2 separate regions of the Homo sapiens genome follow, and region 1 is linked to region 2. A link means that fine-mapping ties the variant in region 2 to the expression of a gene that starts in the linked region. Tissue or cell type: cerebral cortex. Region 2 holds a variant in brackets; the other region holds the start of a gene. All regions are shown on one strand. Distances are from middle to middle.

Evidence for each region. PIP is the estimated chance that this variant, and not a neighbour inherited with it, causes the effect.
Region 1: FTO starts here. The variant in region 2 is fine-mapped to the expression of FTO in cerebral cortex (GTEx, PIP above 0.99). The same link has a PIP of 0.9 or more in T cells, amygdala, anterior cingulate cortex, atrial appendage, blood mononuclear cells and caudate.

What each region holds. Positions count from the first base shown.
Region 1 is chr16:53,700,074-53,708,073 of GRCh38, reverse strand. It overlaps FTO (FTO alpha-ketoglutarate dependent dioxygenase), which reads right to left and starts at 3,918. Exons shown (of 9, transcript NM_001080432.3): 1 at 3,845-3,918. The coding sequence starts at 3,889. RPGRIP1L (RPGRIP1 like) reads left to right here and starts at 4,215. Exons shown (of 27, transcript NM_015272.5): 1 at 4,215-4,271; 2 at 7,344-7,435. The coding sequence starts at 7,351. RefSeq lists enhancers at 3,696-4,105, 3,720-4,220 and a silencer at 4,256-4,305.
Region 2 is chr16:53,870,286-53,878,285 of GRCh38, reverse strand. It overlaps FTO (FTO alpha-ketoglutarate dependent dioxygenase), which reads right to left. Exons shown (of 9, transcript NM_001080432.3): 5 at 4,421-4,500. Among named protein-coding and RNA genes, the nearest start is that of FTO-IT1, 170 kb to the left of the region's middle. The variant A/G (reference allele first, on the strand shown) is at 3,714.

The DNA of each region.
Region 1 (8,000 bases), 170 kb after region 2:
CACTGGAATTCTATCCACTGTGTAATAAAAAGGAACAAAGTACCAATATATGCTACAACATGGATGAACCTCAAAAACATCCTGGGTGAAAGAAGACCACATATTGTATGAGTCCATCTATATAAAAATGTCCAGAAAAGGCAAATCTAAAGAACAGAGTAGATTCGTGGTTCCCTAGGGAGGAAGTAGAATTGAGAAATAACTGCAAATGAATACAAAGTTTCTTCTGGAATGGAACTGTTCTAAAATAAGACGGTGGTGACAGTTACACGACTCTGCAAATATGCTACCAACCATTGAGTCCTACACTGAAAACAGGTGAATTTTATGGTATGTAAATTATACCTCACTCAATAAAGATTTACAAAAAGAGAGATATGCAACCTCATTAGTCATCACTGAAATGCAAATTAAAATCAAATATCACTGCACACCTACTAGAATGGTTAAAATGTAAAAGACTGACAAGCGATGAAAAGATATGAAACAAGTAGAACTCTCATTTTACATTCCTACTAACAGTTGGTAGGAATGTAAAAGGGTGCAGTGCATTTGAATATTGTTCCCCAAAAAGATATGTCCGAATCCAAAAACCCGGCACGTGTGAATGTAACCTTATTTGGAAAAAGTGTCCTTGCAAATGTAATTAAGTTGAGGCTCTTAAGGATCTCAGGATCATCCTGGATTTAGGACGGGTCCTAATCCAATGACTGGCATCCTTTTAACAGAAAGGAGAGAGAGATTTGAGACACAGAAACAGAGAGAAGGCCATGTGAAGATGGAAGCAGAGAAGTTATGAAGTGATGCTACCACAAGCCAAGGAACACCAGGGACACTAGAAGCTGGAAGAGGCAAGGAAGGAGTTTCCCCTAGAGTCCTTCAAAGGGAGTATGGCCCTATTGATGCCTTGATTTCAATGCCTCATCTCCAGAACTGTAAGATAATAAATTTCTGTTGTTTTAAGCCACCAAGTTTGTGGTAACTTGTTGCAGCAGCCATAAGAAACTAAAACAAATGGTCAAATCACTTCGGAAAACTGGTAATTTCTTCATAAGGTTAAACAAAGAACTCCCCTATAACTAAGCAATTCTACTCCTGGGCATTACCCGACAGAAATAAAAATGTAAAGACTCTTAGGTGAATGGTCATAGCAGCTTTTTTTGACAGAAATGAAAATGGAAAGACTCATACATGAATGGTAAAAACAGCTTTTTTCATAAGAGTCCAAAACCAGAAACAATCCTAATGTCCAGCAACAAGTGAATGAATAAACAACATGTGGTATCTCCATACAGTGGGCCACTAATTTGCGATAAAAAGGAACAAATTATGGATACATACAACAACATGGATTAATCTCAAAAACCATTATGCTGGCCAGGCACAGTGGCTCACGCCTATAATCCCAGTACTTTGGGTAGCAGAGGCAGGAGGACGGCTTCAGCCCAGGAGTTCCAGACCAACTTGGGCAACACAGCAAGACACCATCTCTATTTTGAAAAAAAAATCATTACGCTGAATGAAAAAAAGACCCAAAAGTATACACTGTATGCTTCCATTTATATGAAATCTAGAAAATACAGATGCATCTACAGAGACAAAAAACATATCAGTGGTTGTTTGGGGGCCAAGGTGGAGGGACAGACTAACCACAAATTAACGAGAGGGAACTTAGGAGAGAAATGTTCGCTATGCCAACTGTGGTGGTTTTGCAGGTATATACATTTGTCAAAAGGCATCAAATTGTACACAAAAATGGTTGCAAATGACTGTATGTAAATTATACCTCAATAAAATTGATTAGAAAAAGAGAAGATAATTCATGAGCCATTGGACACTTTACATTTAAGATTTAAAACAACTACTTATACTTTGTTCTAACAAATAATATTAAGCAAACAAATTTTAAATGAACAGCCAATTTTTTAAAGAAAAAAGGAAGACAATTTGCTCTACTAATTCAACATGTTTCACAAGCAGAAAATGGGAAAAGCCTTGAATTTGGAGTCAGAAGACCTGGCTCAGAGCACTAGTTTCACCTAGCAACCAAGTGGCCTTGGGCAAGTCACGATTTACCTACAAGTCTCAGTTTCTAAATCTCTAAAATATGGATGACACTAGTAACTCCCTCACAGGCAATGGTTATGGTTTCAATAGAGTAAGAGCTTCTTTGGTGCAGTGATTCTATTTCAGCCAAAATTATAATCCCAACTTATGGCAAATAATAGGTGCTCAACAAATCTTCACAGAATAAATGAAATACTTTAAAAATAAACCTGAAAGATGAGAAAGACATCATGCACAACACCATGAGGTGACATTTGTTTCTTTGCACTGTGTAGACTAAAGCAGAAGGGTCGCCCTCTTTGTGCTTATCTTTAATATATTATCCACATCATATGCAGACTCAAGCATGAAAACTTCTGGTCCCTTACGAAATACTGCAATAACTCAGGTCAATATAGAGCAGATTTTATATTTTAAATCCTTAGGTGTATTGCCCTAAACAGACTCACGTGTAAGATGAAATTCTATGAAAGCAAGAACTGTGTCTACGTTATTTAACACTGTTATTCACTGCCAATATTTGCCTAACATAGAGTAGGCAGCAAATGACATGTGCAAAGGCCCTGAAGCCCGATAAAGTATAGTGAAGAGTGACTTTTAAGAAGGCCAAAGTGACTGGTAGGCAGAGAGCAGAGTGTCATATCCAATGGGGTTGTGAAAGCAGGTAGGGTCCAGATCATGCAGGATCTTGTAGGCAATGTGAAGTTTTGCCTTTATCCTAAGAGCAACAGAAAGCCATGGAATATTTTTAAACAGGTGGTTGGCAGAGTAAGGAGAAAGGAAAGGGACATAATTATATTTGCATTTCACGAAGATCTTACTCTATGGTGTGCAGAAGAGAATGGTAGTTGAGGGAAGGGAGAGAAGGTGGAAGAAGAGTTAAGTTAGGGTGTAGAGTGAGTGTAGGCCAATCAATAGGCTATTCCAACAGTCTATTAAAAAGATAATGGTAGCTTGGTCCAAGGTAGTGGAGATGAAAAAAAAAAAAAGTGGGCATATTCCCAATATACGTAGACAAATCAACAGGATCTGAGTTTGGGAATGAGAGAAAGGAAAACACTCAATGCTTCTGAGCCTCAGTTCTTCATCTGTGAAGCTGGGCTGTTATTTATACTCCATCTGTATAATATCTATCTTGCAATCTGCTGTGACAATGATATGAAATAATTTAAATATTATGCACTTAATACAGTGCCTGACCCACAATAAATGCTTTTTAAAATCTCTGTTGCCATTATTATGGTCATCCCATGGAATGGCAACTACCAGAAGCTGAACATCAAAGGTAGAGAGGAGCAATGTAGTTAAAGATTCATATCCACAGCGCTAAAAGACACAAACTGTTATCAGCCGGTCACGGAGACAATTGTTCCAAAGAAACACAGCTGACTGCACAGATATTTCATCTAAGCCGATCTCAGTCCTCAGAGACCATTATGAGAAAGCACAGCTGGTATGATCACAGTCATCTGAGAATCCGGTAAACTGAGGCACAGGGATGGCGACAAATTTAACCAAGGAATAGATGCAGAAGAAGGACAAGGAAATGGGTATCTTGCTTCTCATTTTTGAGCCGATCCAACAAGACTCGGCCTGCATCCTGAAGAGCACGAATTTGTAACATCCCCTCTAATATCTCCAGGTCCCTTGCTGACAAGGCCCTGTCATCCCTTAGTTTAACACCGCGCATCCGCTCGCCATCAAACCAAGCCCTTCCGGTTCCCTGATCCTTGCTCACAGCGCACGAAGATCTCCAGGCCCCGGGAGCCCGACATACCTTAGCTTCGCGCTCTCGTTCCTCGGCAGTCGGGGTGCGCTTCATGCTGCCACTAAAGCCGCCTTCGCCACCGCAAGCTGCGTAGATCCCTCGCCCTGGACCCCGCCTCCTGCATGTAGTTCTCTCAGCGTCCTGCTCCCGTCTGGAGCTATTCTCCCTCTGAGTAGAAAAAACTACAACTCCCAGGATGCACCGCGGCGACACCCGCGAGCGCCACGGGATTTAGCACAGGAGAATTTCCCAGGTCCGACAGCTGGAAGAGCGTAGTCCGCTACCCCGCGAGCAAACAGGCTAGAGTCCAAGGAGAACTACATTTCCCAGGAGGCTACGGGAGCCTGCCATGTTTCTCCCGTGCTCCTCTCGGCCAGCCGCCCGCCACGCTGTCGGCGCTATAGCAACGGTAGCTAGCTGCAGGGCCAGTGGCACGGTGAGTACCCGGGAGGATGGGGGAGGATGAGGGTGGGTGGAGGTTGCTGACCCTCCCCACTGCAGCGCGGGCCGGGGTCCTAGGGTCCGCTCTGCCGCCTGGAGAAGGCCCTGGAGTTGGCCCTGGAGTTCTGCTGGCGTGAAAGCAGCCCAGCCCAAGACACCTCCACATCCTCAGGCCTGAATCACAGGCCGCCCTTTATCCCCACGTCCAGGACCAATTTGAAATGTTATATCCCAGCCATGAAGGTGAGAGTTGATGCTGCTAATTGCCATCTCTATCCAGATCCTGCAAGTTGTAGGTCCCTAACACAGTTTGCTCATTTGCCCTGGATTAGGAGTTGGTTGGTAGACCCTAAACCTCCTGAGTGGTCTATTGTTTGCTTAATTATATATTATTTGTTTATCATGTGATTACCTCCATAACTTGCTAGCTTCATAAAGGCGGGGGTTTTGCTTGCCATTTTAATCTCAGTACCTGATATTCATTTATTCATTCAATAAATATTTTTTCTTTATTCTTTTTTTTGTGTGTGTGACAGGTTCTTGCTCCGTTGCCCAGGCTGGAGTGCAGTGGTAAGACCTCAGCTTACTGCAAACTCCTCCTCCCAGGTTCAAGCGATTCTTCTGCCTCAGCCTCCCGAGTAGCTGGGATTACAGGCGTGTGCCACCACACCCAGCTAATTTTTGTATTTTTAGTAGAGACAGGGTTTCATCATGTTGGCCAGGCTGGTCTCGAACTCCTGGCCTGAAGTCAGCCGCCCGTCTCGGCCTCGCAAAGTGCTGGGATTACAGGTGTGAGCCACCACGCACAGCCAATCATTCAATAAATATTAATGTTGGTTCCCACCCTGTACCAGGCACTGTTCCTGAACAGTTGTGAACAAGACTAATACCCGTCTCAAGATGTTTATCCTTTTTTAGTGGAGACAAACAATAATTTTATCTGATAACTTCAGATAGAGGCAGTTGCTATAAGAGATACAAGCCATGCTTGGTGGCACGCACATGTAGTTCCAGCTACTCGGGAGGCTGAGGTGGGAGGATCACTTGAACCCATGAATTCAAGGCCAGCCCGGGCAACATAGCAAGACCCTGTCTCAAAAAAAAAAAAAAGAAAAGAAAAGAAATAAACAGTGAAGAAATGTAAGGAAGACTACTCTAACATAGGATGGTCAGGGAAAACCTGTCTGAGGAAGTGAACTGAGCTCCAAAGATTAAGGAACCAGCTAATACAAAGGCCTTGAGCAAGACAAGGGTATGGGGGGTTCGAGGAAAGTAAAGAATAATGTAAGTGAAGCATAGTGAGCAAAGAAGGATAACATAAGATGGTGTTGGAGAGGCATTGCAGCATTGTGCAGGGTTTTTCAGCTTCTACACTATTATTAACATTTTGGGCTGGATAATTCATTATTATGTCTCCTAAGCACTGTAAGATATTTAGCATCATCCATGGCCTCTACTCACTAGATGCCAGTAGCATCCCGCTTCCTTGTTGTGACAACCAAAAATATCACCAGACACAACTATTAATACTTTCAACTACCACCTTAAGTGAGTTAACTAATCTGTGTCTCAGCTTCCTCATTTGTAAAGCAGGAATCATTTGAGTAACAGCCTCACAAGGATATGGTGAGACACTTCATTCCTATAACAGAACACTTAGAACAGTACCTGGCACATAGTAAGCGTTCAATGAATGTTAACACCATCATCATCATCATCATCATTATTATTTTTAAAGTGACCTTAACTCTGTCATGGAAAACTAATCATTTTCATACACGGGCCTATGTGTCAACAGGATCCTAAAAATTGACCTTTTCTATAGGAGTACTTCCAAAAGAAGTAGATGATCTCCCAAGGATTTGTCTGTTAGCTGTTTCTGTAAAAGCAAAATGCAATGGTTCTCCACCATTTGCGAGTTGTAATAAAAGTTATGAACCCTCTTTAAAAGATATTGCATATATACATATACATACAAAATTTGGTAAACCATCTCTGGGTTCACAGACCCTGAAACCCCATGGACTCCATTCACTCACTCAACAACTATTTAATGAATGCCTGCTCTCAGAATGCACCACGCTCTATGCTAGCCTCCAAGAATACAGAGCTGAACAAGACAATGAAGCTTGCTACTGTCTTGGTCTTTACATTCTAGAACCAATATCCTAGAGCTTAAGAACTCTGCCCTTTAGAGTATCTTCATTCACAGTTTGCATGTAGCTTACTAGGTAGATTGAAATGAAAATATAAAATCCTTTATTTTTGCATACTAGATATTGTGTGGACCACTCACATCCATACTCAAAATAGAGTTACTATGGTGTATTTCTGTAAAGAATAGAAACTACAAAAATACTAGAATTAGCTAGAGAGCCTATATGTTGAAGTAGTTGAACCCTGGGTGAGACCTAGGCCTCATGGCAACAAAGGCAAGACACACACACAAAAAAACACAAACCCAGTTGGTAAATTTATGCAACGAAACCTCTTTCACAAAACTCACAAAATGCACAGAACTGCCCACTCATTTGTACATCAAGCAGACAATATTTGAGTAATATTGACATCCCAGGCACATGTGATCAGTGCTTTTAATTTACTCATCCCATTTACCCTTAGAATAACTCTCTGAGATAGGTATTATTTTCTCCATTTTTAAAACTGAGAGACTGAAACTCAGAGAGTTTAGGTGGCTTGACTAGTTTGTTAATGATAGAGCAACCATTTGAATCAAGTTCCTGACCTGAGTTTTTTCCAAGATATCTGCTTTCTTTTGGAGGCTGGGGAGAGGAAAGGGATGGAGAGGAGGTATTTCTTAAATGATAATCTTACTTCATTTCCTAAGCAAACTATAGGAAATACACTGTTGAAAGGAACACTGTCTCCATGACTGAATGTAGTAGTACTATTAGAATAGAAGCTTTCATCTTCTCCAAGCAGCACATGTGGACAATAAGATGCCCATTAAAGTTCTAGTCCCTTTTTCGTTTTATTTGGTTCATTCCATTGCATAGTTAATGTAATAATTTGGAAAGAGTTTATTTGAATTTTCTTTTTTCCACAGCTAGGCCATGTCTGGTCCAACTGATGAGACTGCAGGAGACTTGCCTGTGAAAGATACAGGTCTAAACCTCTTTGGAATGGGAGGGTTACAAGGTATGGCCAGCTGTTATTTATTACAGTTATGAACTTTGATCACTGACTACTTTTAATTTAAAGTATTTCTTATACTCATACAAACCAAACCATTTAAGTAACTATATAGTCCTTGATTGGACTAAACAAAAAGATGGAGAGTTTAGAACACATATGGTATTTTACTACATGCATCAGTTATCAACAGCTCATAGAAAATGTACAGTCCCCCCTCTGTTCTGATAAAGAATTAACATAAATCATCTTTTTAAAATTCCTCACATCAGTAGAAACTACATAGAGAGTATCAAGCCTCCAAACTGAATTGCCTGGTTTAAATTACATTCAGTGTTAAAACATTTCTTTGTGTTTAAATTTTATATGGGAGGAAAGGCCGTATTTTAAGTGTTTTGCCTTTTAAGTGGAATATCTCACATGATAGTGACTTTTTTATCGAATTAATATGGATTAAAGGTTTTCTTTATCCTTTTATCACTTAGTAGTTGCTGTAGAGCTAAAAAGCACTTTCAAATTGAGAAAGAAAAGCACTACTTTAAAGAACAATTTAGAACAGAGAGCTGTGTTT
Region 2 (8,000 bases):
TCTGGCCCAGACCAGAGTACAGTGGCGTGGCATGATCTTGGCTCACCGCAACCTCTGCCTCCTAGGCTCAAGCAATTCTCCTGCCTCAGCCTCCCAAGTAGCTGGGATTAAAGATGTGCACCACCACGCCCAGCTAATTTTTGTATTTTTAGTAGAGACTGGTTTTACCATATTGGACAGGCTGGTCTCGAACTCCTGACCTCAAGTGATCCACCCCCCTCAGCCTCCCAAAGTGCTGGGATTACAGGCATGAGCCACTGCACCCAGCCTACAACATCTTTTTAAAATGACTTCTATCTAGAAAGTTTCCCTACTTGCACCTTTACTTTCCCAAGTATGGAGTGAGCTACATAGGTTATTAATTGCATTTTCATGCAAGATTAGAAACAACCTAAATTTCTTAACAATAGGAAAACTAGTTTAATGACGTATGGTTGCAGAAAACAAAAAGAGAGAGGGGTGGGATGTGGAATAATTTTTTTCTGGATGTATAGTGTTTTGTTTTATGTAAATAATCTATAATCAGGCCTAGTTTGAGATAGGTTTTTTTTTTTTGGTAACAGCTTTATTGAGCTATAATTCACGTCATAAAATTCAAGCATTTAAAGCATATAATGCAATGTTGTTTCGTATAGTCACAGAGTTATACAAATATCACTACAATTAATTTTAGAGCATTTTCATCACCCCAAAAAGAAACCCTGTGCCATTTGGCAGTCACCCCCAACCCCAACTGATTTCTACCAACATTTCCAACCCTAGGCAACCACTAATCTACTTTCTATGTCCATAGAGAGACCTATTCTAGACACTTCATATAAATGAATTATATAATATGTATCTTTTGTGACTGGTTGCTTCCATTTCGTATGTTTTCAAGAGTTATTCATGTTGTAGCATGCATCATTACTGTATTCCATTTCAATGCCCAATAATATTCAACTGTATGGATATGCCACGTTTTATTTATCCATTCATTAAGTGATGAACCTTTGGGTTGTTTCCACTTTTTGGTGATTATGAACATTCCTGTAGAAGTTTCCATCACTCTTGGGAAACTACCTAGGCATGGAATTGCTGTGTCATAGGGTACCTTTGGATTTAACCTTCTGAAGATGTGCCAGACTGTTTCCCAAAGTGGCTGCACCACTGTCCATTCCCTCTGGCAGTGCACATGGGTGCCACTTCCTGCATGTCCTCACCAACACTTGTCACTGTCTTTTTTATTCTAGCTATCCTAGTGAGTGTGAAATGTTATCCCGTCGTGGTTTTGATTTGTATTTCCCTAGTGACTAATGACGTTCAGCATTTTTCATTTGTCTATTGGCCATTTGTATACCTTCTTTTTGTGTGTGTGTGAAGACGGAGTCTTGCTCTATTGCTCAGGCTGGAGTGCAGTGGTGCAATCTTGCCTCACTGCAACCTCCACCTCCCAGGTTTAAGCGATTCTCCTGCCTCAGCCTGCTGAATAGCTGGGATTACAGGCATGTGGCACCACACCTGGCTAATTTTTGAATTTTTAGTAAAGACGGGGTTTTACCATGTTGGCCAGGCTGGTCTTGAACTCCTGGCCTCAAGTGATCCACTCACCTCGGCCTCCTAAAGTGCTGGGATTACAGGCATGAGCCACTGCACCCAGCCTGTGACATGTTAATTCGATTCCTTTGCCATTTTAAATTGGATCATTTCTCTTTTGAATTATTGAGTTCTAAGAATTCTTGGAATATTTGAGACACAAGTGCTTTATGAGATATATGATTTGCAGATATTTTCTCCCATTCCATGGGTCCTCTACACTTTCTTTATGGTACCCTTTGAAGTACAAAAGTTTTTAACTTTGATGAAGGCCAATTTATCTGTTTTTTTCTTCAGTTGTTTATGCTTTTGATGTCATATCTAAAAAGCCATTACCTACTCCTCGCTAAGTGCTATATATTGATGAGTAATTATTACCAAAGTTTACTGAAACAAAACTACAGAACCATATATATAGTAGGCTACCATTTATATTTAAAAATATTTTTGAAATTACATACATTTTTACTTATATATTAAATATCACCAAAAGAGTAACAAGAACCTTTAAACATTGGTTGCCTCTGGGAATGAGGGGCTGGTTGGCCTGAGGAGAAAGAGACTTTAACTGTATACCTTTAGGTATTTTTTTTAATTTTGAACCATTTGCATTAACTACCTATTCAAAATATAATTATTCATAAAATGTAAATTTCTTTAAAAAGACATTCTGTATTGAATCCCAAGAATATTCTGACACAATTATCAAAAACTAAAATCTAGGCCGGGAGCATTGGCTCACGCCTGTAATCCCAGCACTTTGGGAGGCCGAGGTGGGTGGATCGACTGAGGTCAGGAGTTCAAGACCAGCCTGGCCAATATGGCAAAGCCCCATCTCCATTAAAAATACAAAATTTAGCCGGGCTATCTGCTACATTCTATTCTGCACTGTACATACTCTTTAGACCATAAGCATCTTGAAGACACTGAATATAACCATTCCTGTTCACAAGTCCCTACAAGAATACCTTGAACACTATAAAGTTCAATAAAAGTTTGAAGAGAGAACAAACTGAAATCCCTTCTGAATAGTAGTTCCTACAATCAAAACTTGCTGATGATTTAATCTCTCTTGCTTTATTATGTACACTGTAGTGTACAAATGAAGACAGAATAACCTTCCACACAGTGAACTTTAGTTGTTCCCATCTCCTATTAGTTTTTCAACAGAATAAAATGAAAAGACAGTAGTAGCAGTAGAAGTAATTTAATAATAGTAGTGGCAAACTTCTTTGAATGTATACCAGTCACTGTTCTAAAAAGACTTACATGTATTAACTAATTTAATCCTCATAAGAACACTACGATTAGGTACGATTCTTATCCCCATGAACATATTTCCCAAGCTTTTTATTTATCATTTTGTACAGCCCTTTGAACCCAGCACTAATGAGACTGTCCACTCTTCTGGATTAGATTAGGAAAGACGTAGAAGGGCGCACTTAAGTAGCCATATACTCAAGTGATCCACAAGAAAGGGATTCTTAGGAGGGTTATAGCTAGAAAGACAGATGCCTATAACTGGGGAAATGAAATCCTTGTGTATAATACAAGGCACATATTAGATGCTCTATAAATACTTGCTCCTCCCTTCCTCCCTCCCTCTCTTCCTTCCTCCCTCCCTCCCTTCTTTTCTTCCTCTGTTCGTCCTTACCTACCTTCCTCCCTCGCTTCCCTCTTTTCTAACAGAACTCCCTTTAGGTCTCTAAGACAATTATTTCTGTGTTTATTTGTTTAAAATTTGTCCCCCCCAACTAAAGTTCACAAAAGTGGTGGGCATCATGGGCATGTTGACGGCTCTATCTCCCAGGCCTACAGTTTTGGACACATAACAGGCACTCAAATATTTAAATGAATGAGTGAATGGAAAAGAGAAGAAAGGGGAGAAAGGAAGAAAGAGGTGCTGGATGGGCTTGCTGGCATCTTGGTTTAAATACTCATTCATTCTCTCTCTGCCACACAGCAATATGATCGTTCCACTGGTAAAGCTACTTAATGACCAAAAGACACAACACTGCCGTATAGACTCACGCAGTACTGCCACTGGAAGACCTTGCACCTGTACCTCTCACTTTGTTGTACCACTTCCGCCCAATTTTCTCACACTTGTCCCCTGTAGTTCCATGAAAGGTCAAGCT[A/G]TAAAGCAAAGCATGGATAGCAAGCTTAGGTAGAAGGTCACTTGTAATCCCTTTCATGCCTTGCTCTCTGGAACCCCTCTTAACTGAGTACATGGGACCCCAACATGACTAATATGAGTTTTTCTCATTTCTTAGTTTTCCATTCTGAACTAGTCTGAACAGCTAACCATGGGCCATTGCAAGTGGTGGCAGAATTTAGCAATAAAGTCTGGGTTATGAACACAACTGTGGAGCTCAGAAACTCCTTGGCAACCCTGTAACTTTCTCTTTACATTCACATGCCCAGAAGTCTGACCAAAAAGTTAAGGGAAATGAAAATTCTCAACATCTGAACCCAGCCACAGCTAACACATGCACAAGCATAAAAATCTGCCCCAATTCTTCTGGTCATCTCCTGCCCTTGACCTTGACAGATACAACCCTCTAAATAAACCTCTAACTATAAACACTTGTCAACGGCATTTTCCTTCTCCAAGAAACATAACCCCAAGAAGCAAAACACACTTATCCCATGGCATGAATATGCTTTCTAAAACTGTATCCAACACAATCCAAAGCTCAAAAAGCAAGTAAACAGAGACGAAAGTCAAGTTAGATGGAAGCAATTTTCCCATCAAATACTCTTCCAAAGCTCTATAGTAAATTGCTCATTCAACCACTTCTGTCACATCCAATTAGGTGTGAATCACATTTTTATTTACACTTACCTCTGCCACTCGGTGGGTGGAACTAAACCGAGGTTGTGAACCGGCCAAAACACAGTGTTGGTGGGTGGCATTGAGATCATCTACAGGAAAAACACCAGAAATGTATAAAACCATATTTATTAGTCAGTATATACTATATATTATTTAACTAAAACACAAAGTAAACAGTAAATCTATCTTCCAAGAAATAACAATAACCAAGGAATCAATACTTACCTTGTATTCTTTAATCAATCCCTTATAAGTAGGTGACTACATATATATATATTCCATTATATGCGTATCTACTTATAAGTAGACATTATATATATGTAGATACATAACAAGTATAATAATATAAATATAAGTATACAATAAATATGATATACTTATATATACTTATACATATGCAAGTATATATAAGTAGATATATATAATCATATGTATATAACTAAATATGTATATATTCTATCATACAAAGTATGACACTTTGAAGAGTGAAAGGGGATGCTATTAACAATTATTCCAGAACAACAAGTATAAACCAGGACTGTCCTCAGCAAATGAGATATAGGGTCACTCTACTTATTTGTGGTCCTATTATGCCCACCCACTATAAAATTCACTATATATGAATTGAGCTTCTTTCACTTTCTCATGACACATCTACTTCTACCCTTATCTTTAGAATAAACCAGAATTTGGAGTTGCACACCTTTCATCTGAAAAATCTGCCTCTTTCCCTCCATAATCAAAGTATCAATTTTGCCCTAACAATTTTCCAGGCAATAAACCAACCAACTCAGCATGTTGCATGTTTGGCTCTTAGAACAGAACTCAAGTGTAGGGATTCACAACCCAAGAATGAAGTAGGTGGTGAATTCATCAGTTGAAGAATATTCCTAAAACCACAAGCAGTGGGAGAAAAACCAATGACCAAGTTGTTATATATCCTAAGAAATGATACCACAAGTCAGGCAAAATCTATACAACCTCTGCTCAGGACATGACTTCCTCTATTACAAAAAAAGAGAGTTGTAATGTTTCCAGCAATGGCATCCTATACAGGCAACACAAGATTTTTATCAAGATACCAAAAAAGATAATGACTTAAACCAAGAGGCAAATGCCACCAGGCCCCTTATGTATCAGCAAAAACAACCTACAATATCATCTCTAAACATAGAAAAGAAATGCAAGATATTAAGACAGGATTTCTGCTTATGAATATTGTGAAGTAACAGTGACAAGATTTACCCTTCTGTCTTAAACAACTACAAAACAAGCCAAAAATATGAATCAAAGGTTTCAGCAAGATATAATCCCATGGAGAAGAGAAACAAAATAGGTGAGAGATGCCTACAATTGCCCTAACTTACTCCATGGAAACAGTTTCAATGCCACAGAATAGAGAAGAGGAAGTCAAAACCCAGAGTCTCTGTTTCTTTCTTGCCAAGTTGAGAAGACAAAGACTGGAGTATAGGGAGGCCAAGGCCACAGGGCCTCGAAAGGCAGAATGCTGGAACAGAAACAGCTATACAGAGAGACAGCAAACAGACTGCAGGAAGGTTCCCTCAAGTATTTGGAAGAGCACTGACCTGTGCATGTATGAATAAAAATTTCCCAAGGGCCAAAAAAAGAAGCACCAGAATGCAGCAGGTGGAACCAATTTCAGATTTCACACACAGCCAGGAGTATTCTATGATCCCAGCAGCCAAAATGGCTCCCACTACATGAGATACTAGAAAATCCTTAGGAAAGCATCACTGCAGAAGTAGGGCTAAATGAGTCCTAGGTTAAAGGCTGCTCTAGTCCCACCTAGCAAGGCTTAAAACTAAGCCTCAAAAGGATCCAACTTCTGGCCAGGCACAGTGGCTCATGCCTGGAATCTCAGTACTTTGGGAGGCCGAAGTGGGTGGATTACCTGAGGTCAGGAGTTCGAGACCAGCCTGGCCAACATGGTGAAACCCTGTCTCTACTAAAAATACAAAAATTCGCTGGGCATGGTGGCAGGTGCTTGTAATCCCAGCTACTCAGGAGGCTGAGGCAGGAGAATTGCTTGAACACAGGAGGCAGAGGTTGCAGTGAGCCGAGATTGCGCCATTGCACTGCAGCCTGGGAAACGAGAGTGAAACTCCATCTCAAAATTTAAAAAAAAAAAGGATCCAACTTCTTAGTAATTTAATTATTCATTAGAGCAAAAGCCAAAAGTATGTAAAAGTATATAACAAAATCAGGCACCCAACAAATACGATGTGCAATACCCAACATCCATTCAAAAAGTAACAGAGAAATGAAAGATACATACACACACACAAAATATGCGAGGTAGTCACATCTCTCTTTTCTTCTAAATGTACATATCTGCCCTTTCATATATATATATAAGTGAAGCTTCTAAAGGTTAAACATGCAGTATCTGAAACAAAACTCACACTAAGTGAGATGAACAGCAATTTACAAACTGCAGAAGAAAAGATCAGTGAACTAGAACACATGAAAAATAAAAACTATGCAAAATAAAGTGGCTAAACAAAAAAGACTACAAAAATATGAAAGGGCATGAGTGACAGCCAGGACAATATTAAGCCATTTAATGAAAATTTAATTTGAATTCTAGGGAAGAAAGAGTGACAAAAACACACACATTTTTATAGAAACAATGGCCAAAATTCACCAAATTTCATGAAAACTATAAACCCAGAGATCCAATAAGCTCAACGAATTCTAAGCAAAAAAAGATATAAGACTAAACTAAAGCATGTCATAATGAAATGTCTTAAAATCAGTAATAAAGTGGAAAGGTTAAAGGCAGTCAGAAAAAGAGACATTAAATACAGAGGGACAAAGATTAGAATGACAGCAGACTTCTCATCAGAAGTTATAAAACTCAGAAGACAACTGGTGACAAAATACTAAAGGAAAAAACTGTCAATCTACTATTCTATACATAGTGAACACCCTTTCCAAAATAAAAGTGAAATAAAGACTTTTCAGAAAGAAAATGAAACAATTTATATTCAGTAGATTTACACTATAAGAATAGTTATGAAATTCTACAGGCAAAAGAAAAATAATGTCAGAAGGAATTTAGATCTGCTCAAAGGAATAAAAAGTAACATAAGTAACAAATATCATGAAAGAATAAATGCCTTTTTAAATCCAAAATAATAACAATGTATTCTGAGGTTTATAACATATGCAGACGTAAAACACATGAAAAAGCACAAAAGAGGATGGAAGGAAAAGTGGTACAACATTCAAAGTTACATTGTGGTAAATCAAAGATGTAAAGATATTATAAAACCAAGAGCAGTGGCTTTCAATGAGATGTAATTTTGTCATTCCTCACTCTGGAGAGAGAGACACACTGGAAACAGAGATGACAATTTATCAGAGTAAAAAACAAGAAGCAGAAACACACATGGGAACCAGTTCCAGGATAGAAAAACCGTAACTGTAACTACTGAATTGCTGGAGATTCAACGTAGACGGGACTGAGAGTTAAAAAGTCCAGGGGAGCTCCATCTTAGGGAACTCCCACACTTTTGTGAGTTTTATCTCCAAAAGCTCTAACAGGTTCTCACAGTGAAGATCCAAA